2 separate regions of the Homo sapiens genome follow, and region 2 is linked to region 1. Evidence: fine-mapped expression QTL. A gene starts in region 1. The other region holds a variant in brackets. All regions are shown on one strand. Distances are between the middles of the regions.

What was found.
Region 2: its variant is fine-mapped to the expression of CHRM5 in tibial nerve (GTEx, PIP above 0.99).

What each region holds. Positions count from the first base shown.
Region 1 is chr15:33,962,301-33,978,212 of GRCh38, forward strand. It overlaps CHRM5 (cholinergic receptor muscarinic 5), which reads left to right and starts at 6,197. Exons shown (of 3, transcript NM_012125.4): 1 at 6,197-6,850. The region is part of intron 2 of AVEN (apoptosis and caspase activation inhibitor); the gene reads right to left.
Region 2 is chr15:33,988,730-34,004,641 of GRCh38, forward strand. AVEN (apoptosis and caspase activation inhibitor) reads right to left here. Exons shown (of 6, transcript NM_020371.3): 2 at 14,303-14,480. The region is part of intron 1 of CHRM5 (cholinergic receptor muscarinic 5); the gene reads left to right. Among named protein-coding and RNA genes, the nearest start is that of CHRM5, 28 kb to the left of the region's middle. The variant G/A (reference allele first, on the strand shown) is at 7,540.

The sequences.
Region 1 (15,912 bases):
TCCACAGCCCATCTTGTTCAATATTCTCTCTTGATTTCCCTTTCCCAAACCTGTTCCTCATCCAGCTTCCCCAATTTCAGCATATTGCATCTCCAGCCACAGTTACTCAAGCCAGAGTTCTCAGGGTCATTCTCAACACTTCTCTCCCCATCATACCTAGATACCTAATTCATCAGCAAACTATCATTTATACCTCTGTATATTCCTGTAATCTGTCCCTTTCTTTCCATCTATTATTACCTTAGTCTAAGGAATCATCATATTTTCCCTGGATCATCATCATAACCTCTTGCTAATTCCTAAATTTTTTAACATGCCACATCAGACTCAAATCCTTTAAAAACATAACAAATCACTAAATTTCCCTGCATAATATCTGTCTGTCTATAATTCCCCCCTTATCTTCTGCATAGCATACAATTATGATCAAGATCATTTTCATTTATTCATGTTCCCACTAAAATGTGTATGTAGCCAGGCATGAAGGCACATACATGTAGTCACAGCTACTTGGGAGGCTGAGGCAGGAGAATGGTGTGAACCCAGGAGGCGGAGCTTGCAGTGAGCCGAGATCGCGCCACTGCACTCCAGCCTGGGCGACACAGCGAAACTCGTTCTCAAAAAAAAAAAAAAAAAAAAAAAAAAAAAAAAAAAAAATTCTCATACAGAAGTATAATCATTAAGCGGATAATGACTAAATCAAAATTGTGGCCTTCCTAACATGGGATAACTGAAGAGAACAACTCCTAACAGTTAGATGCCTATATGAGAAGGAAAAAGAGCACTAAAATTTATTGTGTAAAATGGATGGCAGGACTAAATTATCTCTACAGTCCCTTCCAGCAGTAAAATTAAATTAAATTCCATAATAATTATGACAACTCTTGACATCTACTAAGCATCTGCCCTCTCTGTGCCAGGCACTGTGCTAGGTGCTTTGCATGGGTTAATCAGAATATGTCCCTAAGACTGTTTCTATGAGATACCTGTCTATTTAAACAGCCCTAACAGACAAGAGATCCAAGAGGAAGATAGATCCTTTCTTTAAAATTTATCTGATATAAAGCAAAATGGAAATGGAAGGTCTAAAATCTCTGTGGGGTCTGCCTTGTTCACTGAGACAGGCAGTGGCTGGCTTTTGTATGAAGTGCTTCCCTAAAGATCAGATGCCAGAGCTGCTGAGAAGGGTATCAGAAAGTAAAACACCAGAACCCAGCCGGGCGCGGTGGCTCACGCCTATAATCCTAGCACTTTGGGAGGCCAAGGCAGGCGGATCACTTGAGGTCAGGAGTTTGAGACCAGTCTGGCTAACATGGTGAAACCCCATCTCTACTAAAAGTACAAAAATTAGACAGGCATGATGGTGGGCGCCTATAATCCCAGCTACTCAGGAGGCTGAAGCAGGAGAATTGCTTGAACCTGGGAGGCAGAGGTTGCAGTGAGCCGAGATCGCACCACTGCATTCCAGCCTGGGCGACAGAGCGAGACTCTGTCTCAAAAAAAAAAAAAAAAAGAAAACGAACAAACAAAAAAACCCCAAAGCCCATCCAAATAATCCTATTTGCCCCCAGAGAATGGCTCCTTGCCAGATTGATGCAGTATCAGGGCTCATCAAGAAAGCAGGAATGATCTCGCTACAGAGAGTATTAGTGGGGCATTCACAAACTTAGAAATCTAAAAGACTCCAGTCATTAGGATCTAAAAGGATGTGATGTGGGTGTGCCTAACGTGACATCTTGTGACCACACGTTCAAATGTTAGTGTCCCCACTAGCCTACAGGGTTCTTAGGGTCTAAGTCCTTACTTAAAAAAAAAAAAAGTCTACCGCCAGGACATAGCATAGTTCTAGAACCTGGAATATAGGAAGCATTTCACAAATACTTAATGAGGAATATTAGTACCCAATCTCCCCCCGAACGTATCTGTTCCACTTACTAGGGTATGGTTGTAAAATCAGAGCTTTCTAAAGTGTGGTCTGGAGACCTCTAGTGGTTGTCTGCAGTTCAGTATAAGGTCAAAATATTAAGGATGACAAATTAGGAAAGAGCCAAATAATAGGTCACAGGTTAAGGCCTGAGATGAGTGAAAAAAGTGGGTGCTATGGTAGAGGAATAAACTAAAGAAGTTTAAAAATGAAAGATTCATTTAAAGTGTCTAAATTAGAAGATAAAAATGCAATCTTTTTTTCTCCAACAAACTGATGCCAAAAGAAAAAAAATGCAATCGTTTTACCCGAATGTAATACATATGAAGACAGCAACTGTTTCCTAATAATCAACTGTATTGCAAAGTACAACCACTCTAGTTCATATCCCCCCTCATACCACTACTTAGTTTTAAAAAAAAATTTAATAGAACATAAATGAATAGTATTTTAAAACACATTGCTATTTGAGAGGCCATAATACAATTTTGGAAAGAAAAATAAATCACCCTTTATAAATTCAAGACATAGAAACAAGAAGAACACATTCCCTATATATTAAAGACAGTCAACTCTCCAGGTTATCTAAGATCTCCAAGAAACTGCAGATTTCATTTTTGTAGAATGTTAGTCATGCTGGAGAGACGCCACTCTTTCAACATTATACTGGGAGTCTCACGCTTAAGTTGAATGATGGTTATTCTCAGTAGGCAATCTTACTGGACTTTAAAACCACCTAGGCTGGGTTCATACCACAGTTCAACATCTTAATAACAGGGTAAACTTGAACAAGTTACTTAACCTTGGTGTACCTCAGTTTCCTTCTTTATAGAAGATGAATGATAACAGTCTGCCTCAGAGCTGTTAAAAATTATGCATTATAAATCCAAAGAACCAAGTGCACTGGTCTTGTACCAAGTAAGGAGTCAATAAATGTTTATTATTACAATTAATGTGCTAAAAATGGCATGGCATGACTCACGTAAGTCAACAAAGGTTTGATTTCTTCAACAAGAATTTAAAAGCATATTTATTTTAGAAACAGCTTCCATAAGTCCACAATACTCTCTTAAAATGCAACTTTTTCTCTTCATTTATTAACTGAAAAATAATCACACTCAATTGAGATTATACATATTGAAATGCCCTAAAAGGAAGCCGTTGCCATGGAAGAAATCATTAACCACAAATCCTACTCATCTAAAAACTGGAGAGCATAAAGGAGAGACTTTTTTTCTTTATAAAAGTATTTATAATTTTGTAAACAGCTATGAGCATAACTCTAGGTATGGACCAAATGTTCTAGCAAAAAAGGACCTTGTAAAAGAAAAAATCATTTATCTTATACATAAATTCATTTGAAAGTCTGTGATGCCTCTGAAGTTGTTTAGCCAACTTTACAGTGGGCAATGGGAGAGTTCAGTTTAAATATGAGAATACATAGAGTTGTAAAAAGGGAGATGAGAGTTGAGACATCTGAACAAAAGAAAAATGTGCTTTATTATATGTATCAAAGAAAACATAAAAGTCCATATCCCTAAGACTTTCCTCCTCCTCCTCATATTTAGGGTGGAAAAACAAGCCATCCACCCAACTAGCTACTCAACCTATTAGATCTCTGAACAATACAGTTCATGTAGACAACTCCTTGCTTCAAAGCAGAAAGTTCATCCTGTAGAAAGTAAAAATAAATACAGCTTTTTATTAAAAAAAAAGAACAACATCAGGAATACCAAGAGCAAAGTCTTGGAGAAAATTACTTTCCACAATGGCTGAAGTATAATTTGGAACTGTACAGGCCAGTACTTAAGTCAATGTTTTTCCATTAATTCAGTTTATAGCTAAAGTACTGAGAGATAATGATATGAAATATTTGCACCCAAAATACACTCATAATCTATTATTCCAGTTCCCTCTATAACCACTTTTTCACCCACCCTACAAAGTTCTCCAGCAGAACCTGCATATTTGCAAAGTGTTCTCCTATGTTGACATTGTATTATAAATGACTGAGAAAAATTTCAGAGACAACTTGGAAAGAGAATGGAAGCATTTTTGCTCACCTTTTCCCATTCAGCTTATCTGTATTAAATGGTGATAATCAGTAACTATTTACTAAGCTTTCAAAAAGTGATTGGCACATATAGTCCTTATTCAGCAAGATTTAAAGGACAAGGTATAATTTGAGAACATAAAGTGTAACACAAAGCTCCCAAATGTTCATGCCATAACATGACGTATGACAAGAGATACTCAAGAGTGAGCACCTTGGGAGAGAAGTATTCTATTGCCCTCCATAAAAAATGGGAGCACGGTCCTCAGCAGTGGCTTTGAGCTTAGATGGAAACAGAAAATTATAATTTCCATCTACACCCCTTTAATGGCTCCCCATATTCACCACCCCCATTCTCTTTCATCCAGCCAATTTGAAAGATGAGATAAGAGTGAGAAGAGACAGAGAACCTGAATGAGAATGAATTTCGACAGGTGAGGGTGTGGCACACAAGTTATTTTCAGGACCTCATGCTATTGTATTCTTGGAAAAGTTAAGTGGACAGCCAAATGTTATGCTTTACCAGAAAGGAGCTAGGAGTTCAAACTTCATAGAAAAATTAAAATCCATTGGGAAGAAACCTTGACATTAATGAAAAACATATATAATATTATAGTCATCGATCCTCATAAACACAATGGCCCCATTTGATAGATTTTTACTTCTCTCATTTTGGATCTCCACTGAACTCTAAGTCACATTCAATCATTGAAATGGCTTAATAATCAGTGGCTTAAAACTTGGGGTATTTATTATAGAAGTGACCAGTATATAATGACCAATCATTACCATATGAAATTACAATCCTTTTCAGTATCATGCAATGTTAAGTGGGAAAAGTTCAAGAAAATATTCTAAAGATATGTTCTCTTGCATAAATATTCCTATTACAAATGTGTGTCAAAGACCACTATAAAACTAAAATTCACTTCTTTCTCATACATGTTCATCTGTCAGTGTTTAAAATTCTATTGGCTAACAATTAAAGTGTATACTTTGTCTGGATTCTCACTCAGAAAAAACCTACATAAAGACATAGTTTCTGAGACACAAGGAATTTAAAATGAACTGGATATTATATGACTCCAGAGGATTATAGCCAATGTGTTAGGTGTGATAATGGCACAGGGTCATGTGAAAAAGTGTCCATACTTTAAAAATATACATACTAAAGTACAAATAGGTGAAATGAGATTTGCTTTAAAATATTTTAGCAAAGAATTGAATCTGACAATTGTTGAATCTTGGTAATGAGTTTCTGGAGGTTCATGTATTATTTTTGTATTATTTTTCAGAGTTTTGTGTAAGTTTGAAATGTTCCATAATAATTTTTTAAAATTTAAAAACATTATATTGTCTAGATACACTCATAAAGAACTCAGGCAGGGAAAAAACGTTTAAATTTAAAATTTAAATTTTAAACTGAAGTGCAGTTTTAAAAATTTGAATTTTAAATTTAAAAACTGAAGTGCAAAAATTATGAAATTGACATTTAAAAATCTATTCTTTTATACAGCTAATATGGATTTCATCTAACTTAAGGAAAAGCTTTAATGAAGACCCTGTTAAAAGTTTGTATCAAATGAGGACTTATAATGCTTTACTCCAAAGCAACAAAACGCATATGCCCAAAAGATGTATAAAAACAGGCATACATTTAGGAAAAAAAAAAAAGGCAGCCTTTTCTCTGCTACAAATATTTAAAACTCACAGTATACTCTTTCTATCTCAAAGACTTTTAAAAATTATTTTCCATCTTTAGGGAAAACCATATGAGAAAATAACTCAGCAACATGTCTGTGAATAATGCCTAGCAAAGCTTAAAAAAAAAAAAAAAAAAAAAAAAAAGCTTCTAGCCAAAAAGACTAACAGGAAAAAATGAACATTTTCAAAAGCATTTTGGAACCTTATTCCAGCTACCTCCATGCTAAGCCCTCTTTTTCCTCCCAAAATACGTCACTTAACTGTCTGTCAAATAACTCTTGCCCATTCTACCTGATCACACTCTGAAGCTGCAGCTTTTCCTGGATTCTCTTCTCAATGACAAGCTGTTCAAACAGAGAACACCTATCAAAACGAATATCATCATCTGCTCCTTTCTTTCTTCCTTTCAGGATATACTGCTGTCCAGCAGGGGAAGTAATTAATGAGTTTTTTATGTATGGCAGCGTCATCCCATCAGTTTGCTGTCTGGTTTGAATAGCTCCTATCAGCTCTTCATTCATGCCAAGTACGCTCACCGTCCAGAGACATGATAAAGCCGTACTTCCTTCTGGATTTTTACCTCACTATTCAAAAAACAGGGTACCAGAAGCATGGGTTACAAAAGCATGAGGAGGACAGAAGAAATGCCTTCATCTTCTACAGAAAGGAAGCTGATGGACTGAAAAGTTCGTATGGAGAAAGGAAAGCAAGAGTGCAAGAACATCCATGCTTCTAGTCCAGATAATGTTTTTTAAAGCAGCTTGATTTGGAAGCGTGTGTAATTCTGAAATACGAACAAGCAGAACTTTTCCAGGGGGTCAAATGCATATAGGAACAACCAGGATTTCTCATTGCTGAAGCATTCAATGAATCTTTAATAAGTTCTCAACACTCAGATTGTTTGTGATCAGATCAACTGCTGTTACCAGATAAAGGCAAAACTCACCCTTCTGGTTCTATAATCCTATCCAAATGGAGTCTTCATCTACCGCATACTATCCTAACTAATGCTACAGGATTATCAGGAATACAGATATAAAGACACTGCAAGAAATAAAACACTGGCAAAATAAAACATGAAAGGAAAGTAGAGAAGGCATTTTGGGTCTCGAAGCTTACTATTTCCAGCCAGAGTTCAAATTACTGAGCTTCAAACAAACCACTGCCAGGTAAGATTTAATTTTATAACCTTAATTTATATCTTGTCTACTGAAATTAAATCTGCTCGTGCTGTGAATGAGATAGTGGATTTGAATTTCTTGCAACCCTTCCTTAAGCTTTTGCAGATTTAAGCTGAGGTAAACGCTTGTTTTTACTTATGCTGCATAAACAAGTCACTCAGAACTAGATAATAAAGCATCCAAAACTCCCATTCATTTTTCATTGAATTTGTCTCATCTTTGTCTTTATTTTTATCCCAATTTTGTTTTATTTAATAGCTTGAAAAAAATGCATGAAGAGAGCCCTGAATGGTGCATAAGAGCCATTCACAGATAATGTTTACCAACAATATTCAAATGAACTTAGTTTCCCAGAGTACTTGATAAAACAAAGAAAAATTAATAAGCATTTTAAATATTTTTATTCATATAAAGGAACAAAAGCTCAATGACTGATTTCTATTGTTACTAAGAAAAAAAAGCTGTGATGTCATTTCATTCATACTAAAGAAAAATAATCTCTACTAAATCGAGGTATAACACTCTTGTAGGATAGGGCTAATTTATCCTAAAGATACTAGACATTTTTATAACAGACTAAATGAAGACATTTTTCTGATTCAACAAGAGGATAAAAAGATGAAAGATGTCTGGTACCTTAAAACCTCAAAAGCTTTGACTCAGGTCAGTGGTCCAAACTGTAAAATGCAAAGCACTAGTGAAGCCATCAAAGGATTTTAAAAGATACAGTGCCTTTAAGAAATTCCCTAGAAATCACTGCATAATGAGACTTCTAGAGTGACAATCTTATGTAAAAACAACAAAACGTTATCATTTAGCAGAAATCCCAACCACATTGGTTTTCATGAGTTTCATTGGAAAACTTAGGTCCAAAGCACCTTATCATAAAGAAGTCCTACAACAAATAATATTTATATTATCTTAGAAGAGAGGAGACAGGGAAACAAGAGCATATCACACCTAACTACGGAGATCTTGTGGTAATATACATAAAGTTATCAGAAGTAAGTATTCAATACTTGTCTAAAAGTAGTCAAATTAGAAATTCTCTTCCATTTCACTGAATTCTTTCCTTTTTTCAAATTTTAGTTAAGGGAGTAAATTATATGATCCCTTCAGGCTTTTCAAGACAGTCTATAAATAACCTTAAATATCATAAGTCTTTTACATCTGAAGTCATTACAGAAACTTACCTGTCATTTTCCAGTACCAAAGGAAAGCAGCAATTTAATACAAGTAGTGATTATCTAATACAACAATTTGTTTCAGAGAAAAAAATGTTTATTTAGAAATCTCAAAATACTTCTTATGCATACCAGACATAACTAAAAGTTAAGGGTGGTATTGTTGTTGTTTACCTACACTGAGAAACAGCTGAACCCTTAAGGGTTCTTTTCATCTGTTCCCTCCTTATTATGGTATTACAGTTTGTAAACAGACATGATTCAAAAATATGTAGATATTTTAAATGAAGAATATTAATCAATATTTTAAATTATAATTAAAGATTTTTTAATTAACTTGGACAAAAGTATGAAATTTCTACTATGCTCAATTTGCTTCCAATAAATGGAATTAAAGGGGGCAGATAACAATATTCCTTAAGTGTTCTGGATTTTATTTACTCATTGTAATGTAAACAGAGACTCATATCCCACTAATTTGGGGGCTTTGTTTCTATAACTCACCTTCTAATGACAATGGCTGGGCAAATGAATACTACCTTGCTCCACCCCAATTTGGTCCTTGTCAGCATCAATCCCAGTGAATTTTCACTTTCTTTCCTTTCCAAATCAAGGCTTTGCTCTATAATAACCCATTCAGAAAAGTGATTACTGAAGTTTTGGTAACAGCTTTCAAAAAAATACCCTACAGCAATTTGGAATAATCTGTATTTTCTTCATGTAGGGTGAAAAAAAAATTGAAAACTGCTTCAAGTTTACATCTCATGGGTACAAATGGATGAGGGATTTTATGCTAGTACCTGAAGATTTGGTTTATTTATAACAACTTTTCCCTGTTATTGATAGATTTAACAATTAAAGAGATTCTGAACAGTCTTGGGATGTAGTCAATGACCTGCCTACTTGTTTCTGCAATTTAGAATGTATTTCATTCACACATATTATATAAAAGTATTATATTGTAAAAGTAATGTGATTGTGTATCATTAGTTCCTTTCATAGAAATGGAGCAAATATTTTGGCTGCCATATCCTTATAATAATACCTATTGCTATATCCTTAAATTCTGGTCATTTTAAATTATCCAAAAGCTATAAGCTTTTTATTTAAACTATGATAAAATAAAAATGGCATCTAGGTCAAAATGAACACATCCATTTCGTGTATGTTGACATAACAATCTTAAAAAGTAATTTTTGTCTGAAATACCAAGCAACATAATTTTGTATATAAAATTAGAAACATACCTAAAATTCATTTTTCTGTGTTAGCATTCAACTTAAAGGGACATTGCATAATATTTTTAAATGCATTAAATATATATTTACTTATATCTTCATTATTATAACTTTAAGTTTTCATAAGGAATTTTTTTCATTCCATTATAATGGCACCGTGTTTCAAGCTTAATTCAACTGGGCATTTCAACTAGCCAATATATTTGTTCCTTATTATGGTTAATTTTCCTTATGAAGTGACCAAATTTGAATAAGGATGTAGTTCACCATGAAGATCATCTCCTCTCCAGCTTCTTCCTGCTGAGAGAGAACAATCTTTGGTTTGTGACATCACAATCTGTGACTGGGAAGTGGCTCTGATATCAAACAGATGATTATATGCTTTCAGTGTGAACTAGCTAAAAGAGAGATGTAAGCACTATTATTTCAAGTCATATCACCAAGACACTAAAGAGATGCATGACAGGAACTGAATTAGAGAAAGATGCTTTTATTGCATTTGTCACTTTTTCAGCATCAACTATTAAAGATAAAAGTACCATCTCACAGTTTTCTCATTAATAATTCAAAAGCGGGAGTAAACATCATGTTGGTTAAATTCACAGACCATGATAAAACGGGAGTAAGGAAAATACCAGTAAGCAAGCAGACAGTCATGAAAGAGGCCCCTAGAGAACTGAGAAATAGATGCAAAATTTCACCTTGGTTCAAGCAGAAATACTGATGCTACTCAGAAAATTGAAAAATTACCAAAACACCCAAAATGAGAAAGACGGTGTCTCTGAATGAGAAAGAGATCCCTAAATATAGATTATAAAGTGATCCCATGACATAGATTAATTAGTATCTGACACATGGACTAGTATGAGGGCAGGGAGGGGGCTGGTTAACACCTTTCTAAAACAGCATGGATTTGTTAAAAAACAAAAACAACAACAGAAAACAAAAACAAAAACAAAAACAAAAAAACAAAGGACTGTCTTGAATTAGCAAAACTTCTGTGTTCTCTGAAAGTCTTCAACAAATATTTGTAAAAAATAAATAAAAATAAATCAGGAGTTAGGGTTCAATTAAGGAAACAAAAATGAAAGCTCCTTTTACAAACACATAGGCATATACAGACCTCTTTTTGTAATCTTTGTTTGCAACAGTAGCCAAAAGACAAAGCAGACCAACTAATCCTTCCACACTGAACACATGTGCAGTCTGTCCTTTGATTAGTGGCAATACCCTGATTCAGAGTATCAGTCATTTGTGACTGACCCTCCTAGACTCAGAGCCTATACAAAGATGATGTGTAAAAAATACAGTTAACTACTCCACGCATAATTACAAGTCAAGCTGAAGTCTCATTATCTACAGTTACACAGATTGCTTGATCCAGTGGTGTGTAGAGAATTCTTAAAGCATTTATTCAGTCCTATGTACTGGTTCATTACAACCAATGGGTTATTCAGCAGTTGTTTAAAGATCTGACATTCTCCATTTTTTGTATTGAAATTATTAGTGAAATAACTCAAGAATCTGGACCAATCAGAAAACATTACCACTTTTATAGACATTGTTTGACGTCACACTGTTGTCATCATCAGACTACGTGGGCCTTCTTATTTCCTGATTATCACTATAGAAATGTAGCACTGAATAATGTGTTCTTTAAGAAGCAAAAGCCAGAGATGATTTCCAGTTCAGTTATCAACTAAAAATCCTTAGCTATTTATAGAATTTTTTGGTACAGTAACCTAGAAAGCTGTTGGTGTAAATCTATCAGGCTCAGTATATAACATAGTACAACTCTTAATATTTCATCAACTGTATACCTTCCCTTCATTTGTGTTGCAAAGACAGTCCTCTACATGCAGTAACTTCTGGGTAACTTCTGGTAATACCTACAGAAGAGCTTCTCATGCCTAGGAACTTCCCCAACACTTTGAGGATACTTCTTTCATAACACCTTGTTAGATTCCATTGAAAACCTATTTATGGCCAAGCGCAACCTGTAATCCCAGCACTCTGGGAGGCCAAAGCTGGAGGATCGCTTGAGGCCAGGAGTTCGAGACCCACCTAGGCAACACAGCAAGACTCCATCTCTATAAAAAAATCTAAAAGTTAAAAAAATAAGAAAATCTATTTATATAGTTGTCTGACATACGAAATTGCATTTTTCATGGTTGAGGGCCTTAAGAGTAAAGACCACATCTAATTTATCTGTCTATTCCCAAGGTAAGCTCAGGACTAGTTAATCAGCAGATGTGTTAAATGAATGTGAAAATGTATCTTAATGCATTCTCAGGTACAATCTCAGACAGCCAGAAGAATAGTGATCCTAAAATATACCTCAGCTGCATTTCACTGATAATAGGCAAGTAGGTAACTGCAGAAAAGTCTAATGAAGGAGTCTTTTAAAGTAGTTTATACTGAAATAATAGCTATAAGGAGATAATATCTGTTAGGGATAGTATATGATATTATGAGGTATGCAAATACAGGATAGCAAATTTATCCCTTATGCTTTTGCTCTATTTGACATATGGAAATCACGTTTGCTATACTACTAGATCTAGAATTTCATCGATAATCCAAAAGGATCTAAATTGGTCTTGCTATTAAAAAGTGACTTCAGGGGAATTTGAATAAGTACTTTGCAAATGAAATTGAAGAGATACTACAGTCATCTTTCTATTCAAAGATGAGTGGAGAAAGTGACACACTTAAAATCTTACATTTATTCTGTTGGATGCTCTACCTGCCCCCTCTCCCTCTTTCACTCTCTGTGAGGAATGAATCTTTGCAAGTTACCTATGTTATATCTCCCCAAGTCATCTCTTCTCCTTATGCCAACATACAATATACCAACAATGGTGATTTCTTTAAAAGCAGGGACAAAGGCTAAAAGACTATGCTGTGCCTCAACCCCTATGATAGAAATTAAAGTAGCAGAGTGTTGAAGTAGGCCAGCATCACTCTAGAATTCATCAACATGTGTGTTGGGGTGGGGGCAGCTATAGTCTGAAGATGCTCAGGGTACATGAATAATGCATGTGTACGTCCTCACAGAAATCTGTGATTTGATGTTGGCGTGCACAACTTAAGATTTTGAGCTTTGGGCCGGGCACAGTGGCTCACGCCTGTAATCCCAGCACTTTGGGAGGCCGAGGCAGGTGGATCACCTGAGGTCAGGGGTTTGAGACCAGCCTGGCCAACATGTTGAAACCCCGTTTCTAATAAAAATACAAAAATTAGCCGGGTGTGGTGGTGCATGCCTGTAATCCCCGCTACTTGGAGGCTGGGGCCGGAGAATCGCTTGAACCCAGGAGGTGGAGCTTGCAGTGAGCCAAGATTGCACCATTACGCTCCAGCCTGAGCAACAAGGGCGAAACTCTATCCTGAAGGAAAAAAAGAACAACAGATTTTGAGTTTTGACATCCTATCATGTTTTTAGCCATGTTCCTTCTTTCAAACACCATCTTAGATAAAATATCAAGATATAAGACATATAAGAGCAGATCTGCCCTGGTTGGGTTGAGACAGAAAGCTTAGAGCCCGCAGGTCCCCTTCTCACCCCATCTCTTCTACACTCTCTCCTCCACACGCTTCTTGGACACCTTCTAAGATATGTTTGTTGTAATTGTTCTGCCATCTAGAGGATTCACAAAGATATTCTTCTCCATTTTAATGCAAGTTTTTGATTCCATATAGACACTGCCAAATACTCTAACCTAAAACTCCTGGTATATGTCAAGCAATAGTATTTTCTAGAGCAAGAGGGCACAGGTTGCGAAACAGTGCTACTTAGCTATGCGGAATGCTACTCAATTATTCTGCTGCCTAAACATTGATCAAGCAACTAAGACCTAGGATTCAAATAAATTATAAGTTGATTTTAAAAAGGACTAAACATCTATAATTTGGGTTGGAATATTCCAGAAGTAACTAAAATTAACAAAATCTCAAAAAATTATTTGCAATCAAGAAAGCATAGAAACAAAAAGTGAGAATTTGTCATAATAGAACTCAGAATTCAGTGTGAGAAAACAACAGAATTTGTTAGAAATACCAGGTCCCAGCTGGGCACGGTGGCTCACGCCTGTAATCCCAGCACTTTGGGAGGCCGAGGCAGGTGAATCATGAGGTCAGGAGTTCAAGACCAGCCTGACCAACATGGTGAAATCCCATCTCTACTGAGAATACAAAAATTAGCCGGGCGTGGTGGCACATGCCTGTAGTCCCAGCTACTCGGGAGGCTGAGGCAGAAGAATCCCTTGAACCCGGGCAGCGGAGGTTACAGTGAGCCTAGATTGTGCCACTGCACTCCAGCCTGGGTGACAGAGTGACTATGTCTCAAAAGAAGAAAAGAAAAGAAAGAAATACCAGGTCCCTTGCATAATATTCTAGTATTATTTCACCTAACAACATTATACCAAACACTGGAGTTGTCCTGAGTTGTTTCCAGGTTTGTGAACTCTGCAATTTACTTGCTTTTGCAAGTGAGATGGGGCTCAAGTATTTAAGCTTGAACCTCCATATATAACTAAATATTACAACCAGCAGGATATATTGGATAAAATCAACTTTTAAAAGAGGAAATATGATCTTCCATCTAAAAAAGCCATGTTTCAATTATTATGACATACTATTTATATTACAATGTATTCATTTGCATTCAGTGATCATCTCCAGCACTGTCCTGTTCACTAAGGAATTCTCATAACTATTCATCCAAAATCTCAAATGATTCCTGCTTTGAAGTCAATCTCCTAAGTGAGTAATGTCGCTTTTTTCTCTAAAATACTTTAAAATATTTTCAAATATATTCTTGAGATTCAATTTTAAGTAGAGTTATTTTAAACCAACAACCAATACCCATGGACTTATTACACAGCTTTAATATAAATTTCTGCCATGCCCGCATCAGATTTTTTATGGCCTCTCCATAAATGGATCTGGGAAGAAAAACTCCAGTAGACAACACACTTTTATTCTGTAAGTGTATTAGGAACTGGTTAAAATTTATATATCTTTATTTAGGCTTTTTAAGTATCAGGAATAGGACCTTCTGCAGGCATAATGGTATATCTCCATTTAAAATATTTTAAATAAATGTAAACAGCAAGACAGAAACAAAAAAAAAATTTAACATAAATGTATTGTACCTCTCCTGTCTCAGATGACCAGCTGAAATTTTTAACATAAATTTATTGTACCTTTCCTGTCTCAGATCCCCAGCTGAACTTTTGAAACAAACATCCTAGGCATAGAAACATAAGCTACTTTATTTTTCTATGCCTTTTCTTCCCATCCCTGAGTCAGCCAGCCTCCTGTGGTATAGTGACATCCTGGATGGAAGTAAAATAATCAAAATTACAGGGTCCCTTGGGAAGGAAACCAATTCCCAGCAGTGATTCCTTATATAGAAAAGAGATAGCTAAACTCATGGTCACAATGGCATGAATTAGTTATGGCAAGGTTAATATCTTGTATAGAAAAAAATAATTTTTGGCTTAAATTGGTACCAAGGAGATAGGAAGGTTGAAAGGCTGTCTCCTCACTAACAAAATCCGCACTACCTTTTTTAGCAACAAAATGAACAAAAAACACAAAATATACATTTAAAGGGAACACAAAAAGCTGGAGTTCTTACATGAGACAGGGAAGCTTGCCTTTAGGATAACAAGAACAAGCTCCAATACTCTTACTCTAAGACACTTTTTCTCATATATTGGTAGGATAGAAAGATCATCTGATTAGCACTTCAACAAAGCAGAAGATGAGACAGATTCAAAACAAATCCTCCCCTTATCATCTCCTCCTATACTCCCTTACTTTTATTTACAAGTACATAAAATACTGCATATTATAATGAATTCCGGTTTCAAACCTTGACATTCTCTTTTGTTAGGAGGCTATGACAGCGTGCTTTGATTCAGGGTGTTGTATCCCAGCCTCGTGGCCTCACTGAGCACCATTCTTATGCTTGCTCTCCTCCAAGGACACTTTGGAAGAAAGGATGGTACATACATATTTTCCTTCTCATTACAGCCCTATGTCTATGTCTGTGAAATTTTGAACCTTGAAATTCTGACTATTTCTACAAGTGAAGAATCAAACGTTCTCTATTACACTCTAAGTTTCCAATAATATGGTCTCAGAGCAAGTAAGTCCTCCCTGGCAAAACAGCCAGGTTTGAATTAGAAAGGACTATTTCAGGCCAGGTGTGGTAGTTCACCCGTGTAATTCTAACACTTTGGAGGCCAAGGCAGGAGGATTGCTTGAGCCCAGGAGGTCAAAGCCGCAGCAAGCTGTGAACACGCCACTGCACTCCAGCCTGGGTGACAGAACGAGCCCTGTCAAAACAGAGAAAAAAGAAAAGAAAAGAAAGAGAAAGAGAAAAGGAAAAAGAAAGGAAGAAAAGGAAGAGAGGAAGGGAGGGAGGGAGGGAGGGATGGAAGGATGGAGGAGGAAGCGAGAGAGGTAGGGAGGGAGGGAGGACCATTTCAAAAGTCACTATGTCTATATAAAACTATTTTAAAAACATAGAAATTCAACCAGAAAACCTTAGCGATCCAAGTACATGAAGAAAGAGGAAATTTCTCTCTAGGCAGAACCAATGCAGACTGGCCGTTCTGAA
Region 2 (15,912 bases), 26 kb after region 1:
ACAAGAGAACAGAATTACAGGGTTGAAAAAACTCCTTGATAAATGACCTTGCTCTATCCCATGCAGCAAGAAGGACCATTGTTGAACCCATTTCCATTAAATGAAACCAAATCCATTTTGAAAGATTTTCAGTAAAGGTGATTTCCCAACTATCCCTTGGATGCCCAGTTAACACTCATAACACAAATGGCTAATCTAAATCCCCTGTATTTTAGTTTAAGCACATTTGATTTTTTTTTCCTTTGTCTTTACAGCTTGGAAAACACAAATTATTAAACCATTTCTCAGGCTTCTTTTGCTTAGCATCCTAAACCTTTCATCATAAATCCTGTTTTTTCTTATTTTTAATCATCTTTCAAGTTCCCTGTATCACCTCTATAGTTGCAGAAGTTAAAATAGTTCAACAAATCCCACACAAACACACACAAAAAAGCTAAATAAAAGAGAAGATGAGTTAATGATCATTTATTTTTCTAATTACATATATATGTTAGTACCATGCTTGGATATTTTCATGACAGCCCCGTGTTAATGACCTAATTTCAAATATGACCCACAGTATATTCTAACCCAACAGTTTGTTTCTCTTCACCTAAAAAGTAATTCTTAGCTTTTGTATAGAACTTTATAATTTGTAAAATAATTCCACATGATCGTCACAACTACCCCTAGATTAAAGCAAGGAGGTATTATTTCTAACAGCTGGTTTTGTTTGGAGTTTAAAAAAAAAAAAAAGGTTCTAAGACAACCAAAACCAAAACTAAGATCCCCTGACGCCCACCAAGTGTTCCTTCTATTCCACCACCTAAACACATATACTACACTTCAGGCACACTACTGAAAAGATGCCTTTCCTACCACAATACTAACACTACAGCCGTCCCTTTTCATAGTCTCTGAATTCATGTTTCATGTGTTTTATTTTAGAAGAGCTTCTACCCTGATTTTCTTTAAGGACTTTATCAAAAATAACCTTTTATTATCTTTCCAGATCAAGTAAAGAGAATTTATCAACTTCCAATTAAATATGACATTGATCAGAAGCATTTATTTGCTCTCCTTCCCAAAACCCACCTAAAATTATCTTAATTTTTTTAAGGAGAGGTATGAGTCTAAAAGATAATCATACAAAGAAGAGACAATAGCAATTGAGACGGATACACTAGATGCTATTAGAACGTGGTACCCAGATGAGGCCGGGTTCAGTGGCTCACCTCTAATCCCAGCACTTTGGGAGGCCAAAGCAGGAGGATCACTTGAGGTCAGGAGTTGAGACCAGCCTGGCCAACATGGTGAAACCCCGTCTCTACTAAAAATACACAAAATTAGCCGGGCGTGGTGGTGGGCGCCTATAATCCCAGCTACTCAGGAGGCTGAGGCAGGAGAATCACTTGAACCTGGGAGGCAGAGGTTGCAGTGAGCCGAGATTGCATCGTTGCAATCCAGACTGGGCAACAGGGTGAGACTCCGTCTCAAAAAAAAACAAAACAAAACAAAAAAAACTTAGCCAGGCGTTGAGGTGCGTGCCTATAGTCCCAGCTACTCAGGAGGCTAAGGCAGGAGAATCGCTAGAACCTGGGAGGCAGAGGCTGCAGTGAGCCGAGATCACGCCACTGCCCTCCAGCATGGGCGACAGAGTGAGACCCTGTCTGAAAAAAAAAAGAAAAGAAAAGAATGTAGTACCCAGATGATTTGATGATGCAGCCAGTTGTCTAACTGAAGAGTAACTGGAATATAAGTCATTTGATAACCAGAAGAGTATCTGGAATACAACTTAAACTCAGAAAAGATTCACTAACGTTCTCTCATTAAGCCATGTCCAGTATAACTAGCTTAAATTATCTAATAATAAACATTTAAAAATAAACAGTCCTTCATGTGAACTTGAAAGTACAGTCTCTGCTAGCGATCCTATGGCTCGGCTCTGGGGGCCTGGGACCGGAAAGATAACCACAGCAGCCAAAAATGGTGATAGTGAAAACAATGGCTGCTCTGGGGACCGAAACCTACCACCATCAAATCAAGTATCATTTTGATGACTTTAATTTGCCGTAAGACGAATTTTTAAAAGGAACAGACTAAATTGGATGAAAGCTGGATACCTCTGGAAATAACAAAATTCAACAGGTTAAATTACCTAACAACAGATTTTAATATAATAGAAGCACTGAACAAATCAAAGGCAGAACTAATGAAAATACAGATAAAACTAAAATCAGAAGATTTTTCCAAACAAACCTCCCTCTGATTAGTACAAAATGTCCCTCTGGCAACTGATGAGTAGAAAAAAATGATGTAAAACCAGATCCATTCATATGAAAGGCTTCCCAATGGATGCAACTCCTGATGACATAATTATTTTATGTCTAATCTTTTAAAGATTAGAAGATAAAGGACAAGCACTAAATATTCAAATGAGAAAAACATTACACAAAGCATTTAAGCAATCAACACGTGCAGTGTTTGACGGTATTAAATCCAATAAAAAGTTTATAGAGACCCTGGCCCTGAACCCTGGTATAAAAATACAGACCTTCTAACACTTTTCAAGGAGGATTATTTTGCAAAACAAGAATGAAGCAAAACAAAGTATAAACTAAATTCAGAGCTAAGCAAGAGCAAGAAGAAAAATGGAAGTGCTGCAAAAGATAAATGCTTGAGAGGATGGATACCCAATTTTCCATGATGTGATTATTATGCATGGCATACCTGTACCAAAATATCTCATATACCCAGTAAATATATATATCTACTACGGACCCACAAAAATAAACTTTAAAAAAAAAAAAACAGAAGTGCTGAGGATGCTCAAATGAAATGTCTAGATTGAATGTTTGCTGAAATTTTGGGATGACTTAGATAATGTGACCTGTAGAAAGCACCCACATATCCTTTTCTCAAATCATGGGGAAATAAAATGGATACACTTTATCAGTAGAGCAAAAGAGAGATTAATTCTATGTAAGAAAAAAGCTAAAGAAACACTAAATAAAGCAGAAGCAGCCAGCAATTGTAACCTATGACTAAGAAACAAGGAAGAGATGTGGAAATTACTAGACAGAAAGGTAGAAAAAGAAACACTGAAAAAAACTCATGCAAAATCACCAAGAATCTCTAAACAAATGAGAATCAAAAGGTCATAGATTTAAAGGAAAAAGAAAGGGAAATAAAGCTGCCTAGGCTGGATCTGCTAAAGGAAATGCACAACTTCAGGGCAGGAAAATGATAGTTCAGGATGATGAAAATGATGCAGCTGGACCAGCAAAAACAAAGAATTGCTTCAAAACAACAGAAAACACAAAATGGCGCTGGAGACTAGCAGTTTAGCACACAAATTCTGCTCTTATCTTTTGAAGGTTTTTAAAAAGAAAATCAGGCCGGGCGCGATGGTTCACGCCTGTAATCCCAGCACTCTGGGAGGCCAAGGCAGGGGGATCACGAAGTCAGAAGATTTGAGACCATCCTGGCTAACAAGGTGAAACCCCGTCTCTACTAAAAAAATACAAAACAGTTAGCTGGGCGTGGTGGCGGGCACCTGTAGTCCCAGCTACTCGGGAGGCTGAGGGAGGAGAATGGCGTCAGCCCGGGGGGCGGAGCTTGCAGTGAGCCGAGATTGCGCCACTGCACTCCAGCCTGCGCGACAGATCAGGACTCCGTCTCAAAAAAAAAGAAAAAAGAAAATCAAATTAGGCCCAATATTCAATATTCAGCTACAAGGAAAAGTTTTTTTGTTATCGGAGTTTTCCTTGTTTTTATTTTTTTGGTTATCCAATTGAAAATTTTTTTAGCCCTGTCAGCCAGAACAAATTTTTTAATTTATAGTTCTGTTTGTGTTATTTCAGATGTTTTAAATATCAAAGGGAAGAATCTTCTTCTACTATATTGCCTTTGTAATATGAGACTATATTGGCACAAACTATATACCATACAAGAAGAGGGAAAAAAATGAGCTGAATCAATGAGGACAAATAAAACTGTCTTGTTGCCTCATGGAAAGAAAAGGTTCGAGGTTTAATTTAAAAGTACAGGCTGCTAGAGTAATATCCTTTCTTTTCCCTTCAGTCTAATTGTTGGCACAAGGAACAGAGGAGGGAAGAAATTCCAATGTCATTACAATTAAAATTTCCTACCCAAAATAGCTTTTCATAAAATTAAATTGAAGAAAATATATAATAGTTTTAAGCAAAAATATGCACAGACAACAACTATACTGACCAAACTGCAGTCTGGTTATTTCGTTTTTATTTGTATCTCTAAAAATAGTGTTTACAGACTTGCACATAATATTTTCCCCACGTTTTCTTCAATATTGATCCAGTGCATTCTGCTCACACTGTTAAACATTTTTCTAACTCTGGCTATCTGTGACATCTTGAAAGGAACAGACAATGCATATTGCATGAATTCAATGATTTGACTTTTGGGGAAAAAAAATGAAGGGCAGAAGAAATTTCTCATAGATCTTACTTTTTACGTTTGAAGGTAAGAGTGGGGTGCCATTTTCAAAGCTCTTGAAACGTAACTTAGAACTGCCAAGAATACTGTTCAAAAAGAAAAGCCAAAGGCATGATTATCTCTTTCAGAGACTAACAGAAAGAGTTCTACAAAGACACCTAAAGACTCACAATCTTACCAGAAAAAGTATGACTTTGAACAACCGTCCCCTTTCCCATATCCACCACTAATAAAAATGAGAGTGTCACTGTCAGTGGTCAGAAACAAACAGAGCAGGCAATGCCCGTGTGGCACAAGTGGAAGGAGGCAGGCTGGAAAGGGCTGCCTCTCCAAAAATGGTTCCCACCTCTATGGTGGTAACAGAAATTTTACCATTAGAAATCCACTTTTAAAGAGTTTTATTCCTTTTATAAAGAGATCTGTAAAATAAAAAATTGATAATACATATGAGCTTATAGAATAATTATTAAACCAACATAAATAACAATCATCCAGGCCAGGAAATAGAATACTGCCAACACCACACCTGCTACCGGGCCCTCCTCAATCATTACACCTCATCTCCCCACTAGAGGTGACCGCAATCATGATATCTGGAATAATCATTTCCTTGATTGTCACTTTAGTATTTAAATATACATCCTTAAAAAATAGGGTTTTTTTTTCCTGTGTTTGAACTTTATATAATAGAATCATACTAACGAATTCTGTGGGCATGTTTCTTTTACTTCATGCTATGTTGAAAAGATTCATCCACTTATTTAAGTATTCATTCCACTATTAATGAATATTTGCGTTGCTTCCATCTGAGGCTCTTCTGAACATACAGCTGTGAACATTTGGGCACACACGTGCTGGAGTTTCTCTAGAACAGGGGGTCCCCCACCCCCAGACCATGGATCAGTACCGGTCTGTGGCTTGTTAGGAACCGGGCTGCATAGCAGGAGGTGAGTGGTGGGCAAGTGAGCAGATTCTTCTCTATTTACAGCCACTCCCTACTGCTTGCATTAGTGCCTGAGCGCCACCTCCTGTCAGATCAGCAGCAGCATTCGATTCTCATAGGAGCCAAACCCTATTGTGAACTGCACATGCAAGGGATCCAGGTTGCACGCTCCTTATGAGAATCTAAGGCCTGATGATCTGTCAGTCTCCCATCATTCCCAGATGGGACCATCCAGTTGCAAGAAAACAAGCTTAGGACTCCCATTGAGTCTACATTATGGTGAGTTGTATAATTATTTCACTACATATCACAATGTAATAATAATAGAAATAAAGCACATAATAAATGTAACACGCTTGAATCATCCTGAAACCGTCATCCTCACCCTGGTCTGTGGAAAAATTGTCTTCCACAAAACCGGTCCCTGGTGCCAAAAAGGTTGGGGACCTCTGCTCTAGAGTATCCTTTAAGGGTGAAAGTGCTAGATCTTCAGTTTTATCAGAAAATGGCAAACTATCTTCCAAAGTGAGCATCGACATATACATACAGTGTGTGTGAAATAGAAATTCACTTTTTAATTACAAGTCTTCAAAAATTCACTGTTACAATGGAAATCTACTTAGAGAATATATGTTAAGCTATATTCTCTACTCTTGAAGTTCTATATTCTCTACTCTTAGATAAAGGTGTACTCTTAGATAAAGGTCTATCTTCCAAATAACATTTGAGAATTGGACCAGAGGTCCAGCTAATTTGGGAAGAAAAAAATAACATACAGGCAACCATCCACATTGGTAGATTTAACCAACCATAGATCAAAAATATTTTTTAAAAATAAAAAATAATAATACTGGCCAGGCACAGTGGCTCACACCTGTAATCTCAGCACTTTGGGAGGCCAAAGAGAGAGGATCACTTGAGACCAGGAATTCAAGACCAGCCTGGGCAACACAGCAAGGTCCTGTCTCTACAAAAAAATGAAGAAATCAGCCAGGTGTGGGTGGCACACCTCTATAGTCCCACCTACTCAGGAGGCTGGGGCAGGAGGATTGCTTGAGCCCAGGAGGTCAAGGCTGCAGTGAGCTATGATCATGCCACTGCACTCCAGCCTGGGTGACAGAGGAAAACCCTGTCTCTCTAAAAATAAATGAATAAAGAAAATTATTTTAAAATAACAATACAACAATAAAAATACAAATAAAAAATAATACAGTATAACTTTACATAGCACTTACATTGCATTAGATATTATAAGTGATTTAAAGATGATTTAAAGTATATAAAGGAAGGTATCTATACTTTTTGCATAGGTTATATGCAAATATTTTGCCATTTTATATCAGAGACTTAGCATTCCTAGATTTTGGTATCCACAGGCGTCCTGAAACCATCCCTCTTGGATACCAAGGGAAAACTTTTGAGTCCTTAAGTCCTCAAAAGCAATTGCAACAAAACCAAAAATTGACAGGTGGGACCTAATTAAACTAAAGAGTTTCTGCTCAGACATTTTTCGAAGTTACTGAAATGACTAAATGAATCAGATGCTTCAGACCACACCAAACTGCAGGTCATAAGCCATTAGTGGGACATTATATCATTTGGGTTTTTAAAATGCTGCTGCAGCTCCCAGCGTGATCAATGCAGAAGACAGTGATTTCTGCATTTCCAACTGAGGTACCTGGTTCATCTCATTCGGACTGGTTGGACAGTGGGTGCAGGCCACGGAGGGCGAGCTGAAGCGGGGCGGGGCGCTGCCTCACCCTGGAAGCGCAAGGGGTCAGGGGATTTCCCTTTCCTAGCCAAGGGAAGCCATGACAGACTGTACCTGGAAAATCTGGACACTTCCGCCCAAATACTGCGCTTTTCCAACAGTCTTAGCAAATGGCACACCAGGAGTATATCCCACACATGGCTAGGTGGGTCCCACACCCACACAGCCTTGCTCACTGCTAGCGCAGCAGTCTGAGATAGACCTGTGAGGCAGCAGCCTGGCAGGGGGAGGGGCGTCTGCCATTGCTGAGACTCGAGTAGGTAAACATTGTGGCTGGGGAAGCTTGAAGTGGACAGAGCCCACTGCAGCTTAGCAAGGCCTGCTGCCTCTGTAGACCCCACCCCTGGGGGCAGGGCATAGCTGGACAAAC[G/A]GCAGCAGAAACTTCTGCAGACTTAAACGTCCCTGTCTGACAGCTCTGAAGAGAGGTGTGGTTCTCCCAGCACAGTGTTTGAGTTCTGAGAACCGACAGACTGCCTCCTCAAGTGGGTCCCTGAACCCCATGTAGCCTAACTGGGAGACAACTCCCAGTAGGGGCCGACTGACACCTCATACAGGCGGGTGCCCCTCTGGGACGAAGCTTCCAGAGGAAGGATCAGGCAGCAACATTTGCTGTCCTGCAATATTTGCTGTTCTGCAGCCTCCGCTGGTGATACCCAGGCAAACAGGGCCTGGAGTGGACCTCCCACAAACTCCAACAGACCTGCAGCTGAGGGACCTGACTGTTAGAAGGAAAACTAACAAACAGAAAGGAATAGCATCAACATCAACAAAAAGGACATCCACACCAAAACCCCATCTGTAGGTCACCAGCATCAAAGACCAAAGGTAGATAAAACCACAAAGATGGGGAGAAACCAGAGCAGAAAAGCTGAAAATTCTAAAAACCAGAGCGCCTCTTGTCCTCCAAAGGAACGCAGCTCCTCGCTAGCAAGAGAACAAAGCTGGATGGAGAATGACTTTGATGAGCTGACAGAAGTAGGCTTCGGAAGGCTGGTAATAACAAACTTCTCCCAGCTAAAGGAGGCTGTTCGAACCCATCGCAAGGAAGCTAAAAAGCTTGAAAAAAGATTAGATGAATGGCTAACTAGAATAAACAGCGTAGAGAAGACCTTAAATTACCCGATGGGGCTGAAAACCATGGCACAAGAATGTAGCAAACAATAAAATGTAACATTCTTCAGGAAAAAAAGCAAAATTAGAACTTCTAGAAAATATAGGAGAACATCTTTAACCTTGGGAGAAAGATGGATTTCTAAAGGCATAAAACAGCATAAACAGTAGGATAGAAAATTGATAAATTCAACTAAAATTTAAAACAATGCACTGAAAGACACACTATAGAAGTGAATCTCATATCAGGAGATACCTGCAAACACAAATATCAAAAGATAAGTATCAAGACTACTTTTTTTTTAACCCACAAATCAATAAGAAACAAAATAGCCAAATGGTCAAAGAATGTGAGCAGCAGTTCACAAAGAAAGCAAGCACCACAAATACAAAGATGTTCAACCTCAGTAATAACTAAGGAAATGTAAACTAAAAACTCCAAAGACGAGGTCTCCACACCAACTCACAGCCAGGCACACCCGTATTTTTATATAAGACTATATCATTACCGTCATCCGCAACCCCCTGCCCCACCAAATCTCAACGTCAAACATTCTAATCTACAGCCACCACTTCCCACCTCTCCAACTCACACTTTCTCAAGAAGGTCAATAATCCTTCTGCCCTGAAAAAATCTGTAGTCCTGTGATCCCAATATCTTTTTACTGCCCCTCATCTTCTCTCATATCTTCACTTATTTCCTTATCCCACTTAAATTCATTTCAATCATTCTAATCATCTCCTTTTCCCTCTCTCATTTCATTGCATTTGCTCTGCTAAACTGTAATCATGATTAAGTCCTACCCTTCCGTCCGGTCTTTCTGGGCCTGCACCCATACAGCACAATATGAGTCAGGGAAAAGTATACCTGTTCTCACCTTAAATTTATGAATACCAACTTCATGTGGGCCCCTATTGTCACCCAACATCTATACCACATTTTCCTACTTGGAAAATAGGAAACTATACTTTCCCACTTCCTTGACAACTATTTCTTACCTTCTGCTCTCTCCTTCCACTTCCAGTACCTCCTCCACAACACTTATCCATGGTTTTCTTAGACCACTTCCTCAAGCCTCCATGACATCTACCCATCTACCCATATCTATGCCCATATATTCTGCCTTTCCTCCAATTACAGTTGGAAAACTGCCCAAGCCCCAGCAATGGGCCATCCCTCCACCTGCACAATAGATCCTATCAAGCTCATATCTACTAAAGAACACAGATCCAGGAATTCTCACCCCTCCCCTTATGATTTTTGTCCCCTTTTCTGGATCTATCAACAAGTAAACATGTAGTTATTTCTCCCACCTTTAAAAAAATGTCTTAACTGGCCAAGCATAGTGGCTGACATCAGTAATCCCAGGACTTTGGGAAGCCAAGGCAGGATTGTTTGAGCCCAGGAATTCGAGACCAGCCTAAGCAACATAAGAAGACCCTGTCACTACAAAAGAAATGCCAAAAAAAGAAAAAATTAAAAAGTCTTGACTCACTTCTCCCACCAGCCCATTATTCTCCTTTCCTTTATAACAAAACTCCTTAAAATTAAGTCATTTATACCTGCTGTCTCAAACATCTCTTCCCACATTCTTTTTAAATTCAAGAAAAAATTTATGCCACCACTCCAACAAAACTGCACTTGTGAAGATCACCAATAACCTTCCTGTTAAATTTAACAGTCAATTCTTCATTGTCATCAACTGCATTTGATACAGATCTCTCCTCCTGCTTCAAAACACTTAAAGACACTACACTCTCTGGTTCTTTCTTCTACCACTCATGCTCAGTCTCCTTTGCTGGTCTCTTCTCTTTCCCCTAAACTCTAGACACTGTGGTGCCTGGGAATCAGTACTTCTCTAGGTAATAACTCCCCCTGTCATCTCATACATTCTCACGACTTTAAATATCATCTATAGGCTGGCATCACCCAAATGTATTATTGCCAACCCAGGCCTGGATCCTGAACCCCACATTCCTCTATCCAGCAGCCTGCTCCATGTCGCCTATTAGATGTTGTGCTGGGTCTCTTCCATGTGCCAATGCAGATTTATCCTCCACCCTTCTCCAACCTGTTCTACCCTAGAAGGTTGACCAATATGGATTACAACTTCCCTTGTCTTCTGGCTTCCAGTAGGTTAGACTTATGGAAGCCTTGGCAGAGGGAGGAAGAGAATGTTTATTCCTCTGACTCTCTCAGAGTGGGGTCATCTTCACTGGCTGAGTCCCCTCACCGAAGGTGATTCATTCTCCCAAGGCCAACTCTCTATGACTCCCTTCAAATTTCCAGTAACTAGGGTGGTAACATCTCTGCCGCTACTTGCCCTCTCAACACAGCACTACCTCAGTGCTTTCATTAGACTCTACACATACCTTTGTAAATGATTCCTTTGTCAAAGTGTTCAATTATATTGAGTGTGCCAGCCATTTATTAAGGAATTCTGACTGCAACAGGTATCAAAGTGACATCTCACTTTTAATACATGCAACACTGGTACCTCCTATAACTTACACACCTCAGTTAAGGGCAACTCCCTTCTTCTCACTGTTCAGACCCAAAACCTAGTGTCATCCTTACGTATCTTTTTCTCTCATACCCAGCATTTGCAAGTGCTCTCTGCTCTTCTCTCTACGTAGATCTAACCCAACCACTTTTCACCACCTCCACTGCTCTCCTCTGGACCCAGCAACCACCACCGCTGCTTACCTGGATTATTATTAGTGGCTTCCTAACTAGTCTACCTGCTACTAGTAGTAGCAGTGGCTTCCTAACTAGTCTACCCGCTCCCCTCTTGCCAGTCTTCAGTTCCTTCCAACACAGCAGAGTGATCCTGTTAACACAGGAGTGTTATATCACTCTTCTCTTCAAACCCTCCGCTGGTTTTTCATCTCACTCAGAATAAAAGAAAACATCTTTACAATGGTCTACAATACTACGCGATCTGGCTGGATAATGCCTTTCTGACCCCATCGCATATTCGCTCACGTTGCTTCTGCCACACTGGCCTTCCTTGCGATTCCCTATCCTCCTATCTCAAAGCCTTTGAGCTTGCTATTCCCTTTGCCTGGGACACTTTTCCCATAGATATCCTCACTTGCTCCCTCACCCTCCTCAGATCTTTGCTCAAATGTTATATTCTCAGTAAGACCCCTGGCTACTTCTAAAACTGGTTAACAGCCCTTCCTCATTTTATTTCTATTCTAAGCAATTATAGCATTTAACATTTTATATACTCTTCTTGTTTGTCTCTACCCTCTAGAAAGTCAACTCTGTGAGACAGGTGTCTATATCTGTTCTGTTCACCACTCTATGTCCAGCCTCTAAGCCAATAGCTGGAACAATGGGTACTTAAATATCTGTTGAATTAACTACACTAGATACCATTCAATCAACTGGTCACAATTTAAAAGTCCAACAGTACTAGCTATTTGCAGAGATGACGAACACCAGGAACTCTCTCATCTTTACCGTGGAAAGCAATTTGGCAATATCTAGAAAAGTTTATGATTGCACACCTAAGGAACCAACAATATTTTTTCTCAGTTGTCTATTTATTTATACAAACAAGGATAGTACACTAGAAAGCAGAATTGTTTCAAGGAGTATGGTCAGCTTACCTAGAAAACACTGCATACTCTAGAATTTTTATTATCAGAGAATGAAGTTGACCTCTCGAAAGTAAACCAATATAGCACCAAAACACTGAGTATGAAGAAAGCATGGAAGCTCTTCTCAGTCTTATGCTATCCTGAGAAGAAACTGATAAATCAGCAACAGAGTGGGAAAGAAATGTAAGCACATATCAAAAGACAAGACAGCTGCAATTACCAAAAAAACCAAAACCAATCACAGATAAACAAGCCACTTCAGAAGAAATCAGTAAGCAAAGAGACTACAAGAAAAATACATGAGAGACTCAATCCATGCCAGGTTTTTAATTATATATAAAATGCTAAAATAAATAACCAAAATCATAAACCAGAGGACAGGCCTGCTAGGTTGGACTAGAATTTTTTTTTTTTTTTTTTGAGACGGAGTTTTGCTCTTGTTGCCCAGGCTGGAGTGCAGTGGTACGATCTCAGCTCACTACAACCCCCACCTCCCAGGCTGAAGCAATTCTCCTGCCTCAGCCTCCCTAGTAGCTGGGATTACAGGTGCCCGCCACCACGCCCAGCTAATTTTTTGTGTTTTTAGTAGAAACGGGGTTTCACTATGTTGGCCAGGATGGTCTCGAACTCCTGACCTCAGGCAATCTACCTGCCTCGGCCTCCCAAAGTGCTGGGATTACAGGCGTGAGCCACCATGCCCAGCCTGGACTAGAATTTTTAACTGCCTTCCAACATTTATGAAGTATCTTTTTTTTGACAGATACTAGTAACTGACTACACAACTGATTGAATTAAATCTACTTTAGTCCACAAGTTAATTTCATTGTATTACTTCAATTTTCTCCCCCTAGATCTTCTGGCAGAACAGCTGTTGAGAATTAAAACTAACCAGCTCATATTTTACCTTCATTCCCCTTCTCCCACCTTGAAGAAAAGTGCTTATAAACCCATAATTGGCCAAAATATAGGTACCAAGAGGGAAGCACTCATTTTACAGGAAAAATTATTTAGTGTTACCAGTTCTTGAACAGTCAATGAGTTGAGAGCAATCCACAAACCTAAAGAAGTTATGCTATTTGAATCATCTACGGTAATGACGAATCCTGTGCTCCTGACTCACAATTTTATGATCTACTTCTTTCCTGCTCGGAAAAGCACATTCTATTAAGTTAGAAGAGAATGCATCACTTTATTGTTCTTAGTCTGGTGCCAGCATTCAAAAATACAGGCAGATAAAGAAGAAAGGTAGAACTAAACAGCAACATCAAAGTCATGAGGAAGAAAAAATTCAAAGCAGTCCCAAAGTATTATTTTTGTTTTACTTCCCTGCTTCTCACATCTGCATCCTTTATATCTTTTTAACCTGGCAATAATTATTTAGCGACGTAATTGCAGATTCACACACAGTTATAAAGAAATAATACAGAAAGATCTCTTGTACACATTGCCCAGTTTACCCCAATGATAACATTTTGCAAAACCATAATATAATATCACAACCAGAAGACTGACACTGAAACTGATACAATCTGCCAATCTTATTCAAATTTATTCATACTCATTTGTGCACACGTGTGTATATTAAGTTCTACACAATTTTATCACCTGCGTAGGTTCGTGTATCTGCCACCGCAGTCAAGATACTAATCAGTGTCAGCATCCCAGGGATCTGTCACGCTGCCCCTTTATAAGCACATCCGCCTCCCACCCTCCCATCCCCAACACCTGGAAATCACTAATCTATCTTCCAGTTATTCTTTAAACTCTTACGCCACACCTCAGTAGGGACCCTGCAGCCATCTGTACACCCAGCACTCCTCCATTCTTCCCTGTTACTGCTCTCCAGCATCACATCACTCAAGGTGCAATCAATCTTAGATTACAGCTGATCACGGAAAGGCTGGGTTTTTCACTTTATTGACAGAGAAGACTATCCAAAAGCAAAAACAAAAACTTGGTGTTCAAGTGCATATAGCTCCAATATGTGCATATCCACTACTATGTATATACCTGGCTACTTAAAAAAAGGAAAAAAAAGAGAACATATATTCTAGAAACTTTATAATGCTTCCTACAAATATAAGGAATGTTTCCTCCAATATCAAAGAAAACATTTATGTTTCTCAGACTATCAAATTTACAGCAGCATGGCTCAGCTTTTTCCACTTATAGAAAGCCTTTTATCTATCGCAAAGACTTTAGTCATTCTACATCGGTACATGGAAACCCTTACTTCCACTTAAACTCATTTTTTTCCCTTACAAGCCATTAGAAACACTGTCCTTTACTTGAATTAAAAATCCAAAGAACAAAGGATAAATTGCTAGTTATAAAAGTAGAATTTAAAAACATATATAAAATGTCTGTGCAACTTTCAGAGCACTAAACAGTATGCATGCAACTGGAATTCATACCTGCAGAGCTAAGGAGGACACTGAAATCTGTTCCCCTCTGTGACTCTCCACTTTCATTATTGACCTCTTTTTCAATATCTTGATATCGATCCCAGTTAGAGACAATCTTTCTTTTAGAATAATTTCCCTGTTCATCATTCTCTTCTCCATAGGTCTCTGCATCGCTGTCATCTTCAACCTGCAATCATTAGAGACAAATCAATAAGTAAGCAGTGGAAATCCTGACCTTAGTAGACTTCCCAGTAAAACAAAAAAGTACATGGACATAACAATAAAAAGCAATAGACCAAGCTGTCTGAAGATATTAAATATTATTTTAAGAGAATCACACTATACCAGAGTGTTCTTTTAGGGTGAACTTTCCAGTAATCATTGAAAAGGAAATCTAGCAAGCAGCTGCCTAAACATTTGTGTAGCTGATCTCTAAAATTTATCCCTATGTATCCTATTTCAATAGTTGCTTCATCCAGTTGAAATAATCAAGGCTGTAAGCATCTTAAACTCAAAGGACTTCAGGATGGAAATCAACTCTCCCTTTCAATTTATGGATATGGATTTTACAAACACATTCCATAAACATGTTTAAAAGCTTTATTTAATTTTTTAGAGCAATGAAAGTATGACATTATTTAAAACTATTTAACTTAAACATATATTACTAGGAAAACACTATTACATATAGTGAGGGACAATGACTTGTGAAATGGAGTGTGAATTTACATGGTACTACATTTATACATAAGATTCCATACTCTAGAATAATGAAAACCATTCCACATCTACATTTGTTTTAGTACTTCTTATTAACAACTTGAGTTTGAAATAAATACATGTTATGACCAGAACCATCCAGATAGGTGATTAATGAACATTCTGATGTTATATATTGACTCAAATCTATTTTTAAATATTGAGAGGAGACAAATTACTGACAAAGTCAAGGCCACTTCATTTGCCCTTGATAGCCTTCTGTGAGTGCCCTCTCAGGTACTCTCTTAGCACTCTCCAGGCTCAATTTCTACAACTTGCCTGTGTGATTGTTCAGGTAGCGTCTGTGTGAGCAACTAGTTGTATACATGTGGACACACACACATACACAATGCTCCTAGAAAAAAGCTAGCACAAAATCTTAATTCAATAGAAAAGCTTGGGTATAAAAAAGTTCCCTGTATTACAACTGACTATGTTGTATAGATTTTTAAATAGGAACCCTGCTCAGATGCATGCTAGAGAACAGTTTCCAGTATTGGGCACTGAAAGGTTAAGAGAGCATGCAGAAAGATGCACAATGTGAACAATTCTAGAAGATAAGGAACCCAGTTTCTTCAATAAATAAACTGAAAGAGAAAAAAATGGTGGGAGAGGATGGAGAAACCTATAAACCAAAAGAGCTTAAGGCATAATCAGTTGTAATGTAGGGAACTTATTTGTACTGATTTGAACAATCTAGAGAAAATAATGACTATGAGACAACTGGGAAAAAGTAAATAATGACTGGATATTTGATTATATTAAGGAAATACCACTAATTTATTGTTTGTTTGTTATAATACTGGTATTGCAATTTTTTAAAGTGTTGTTAACTTTTAGATATAAACACTGAACTCTTT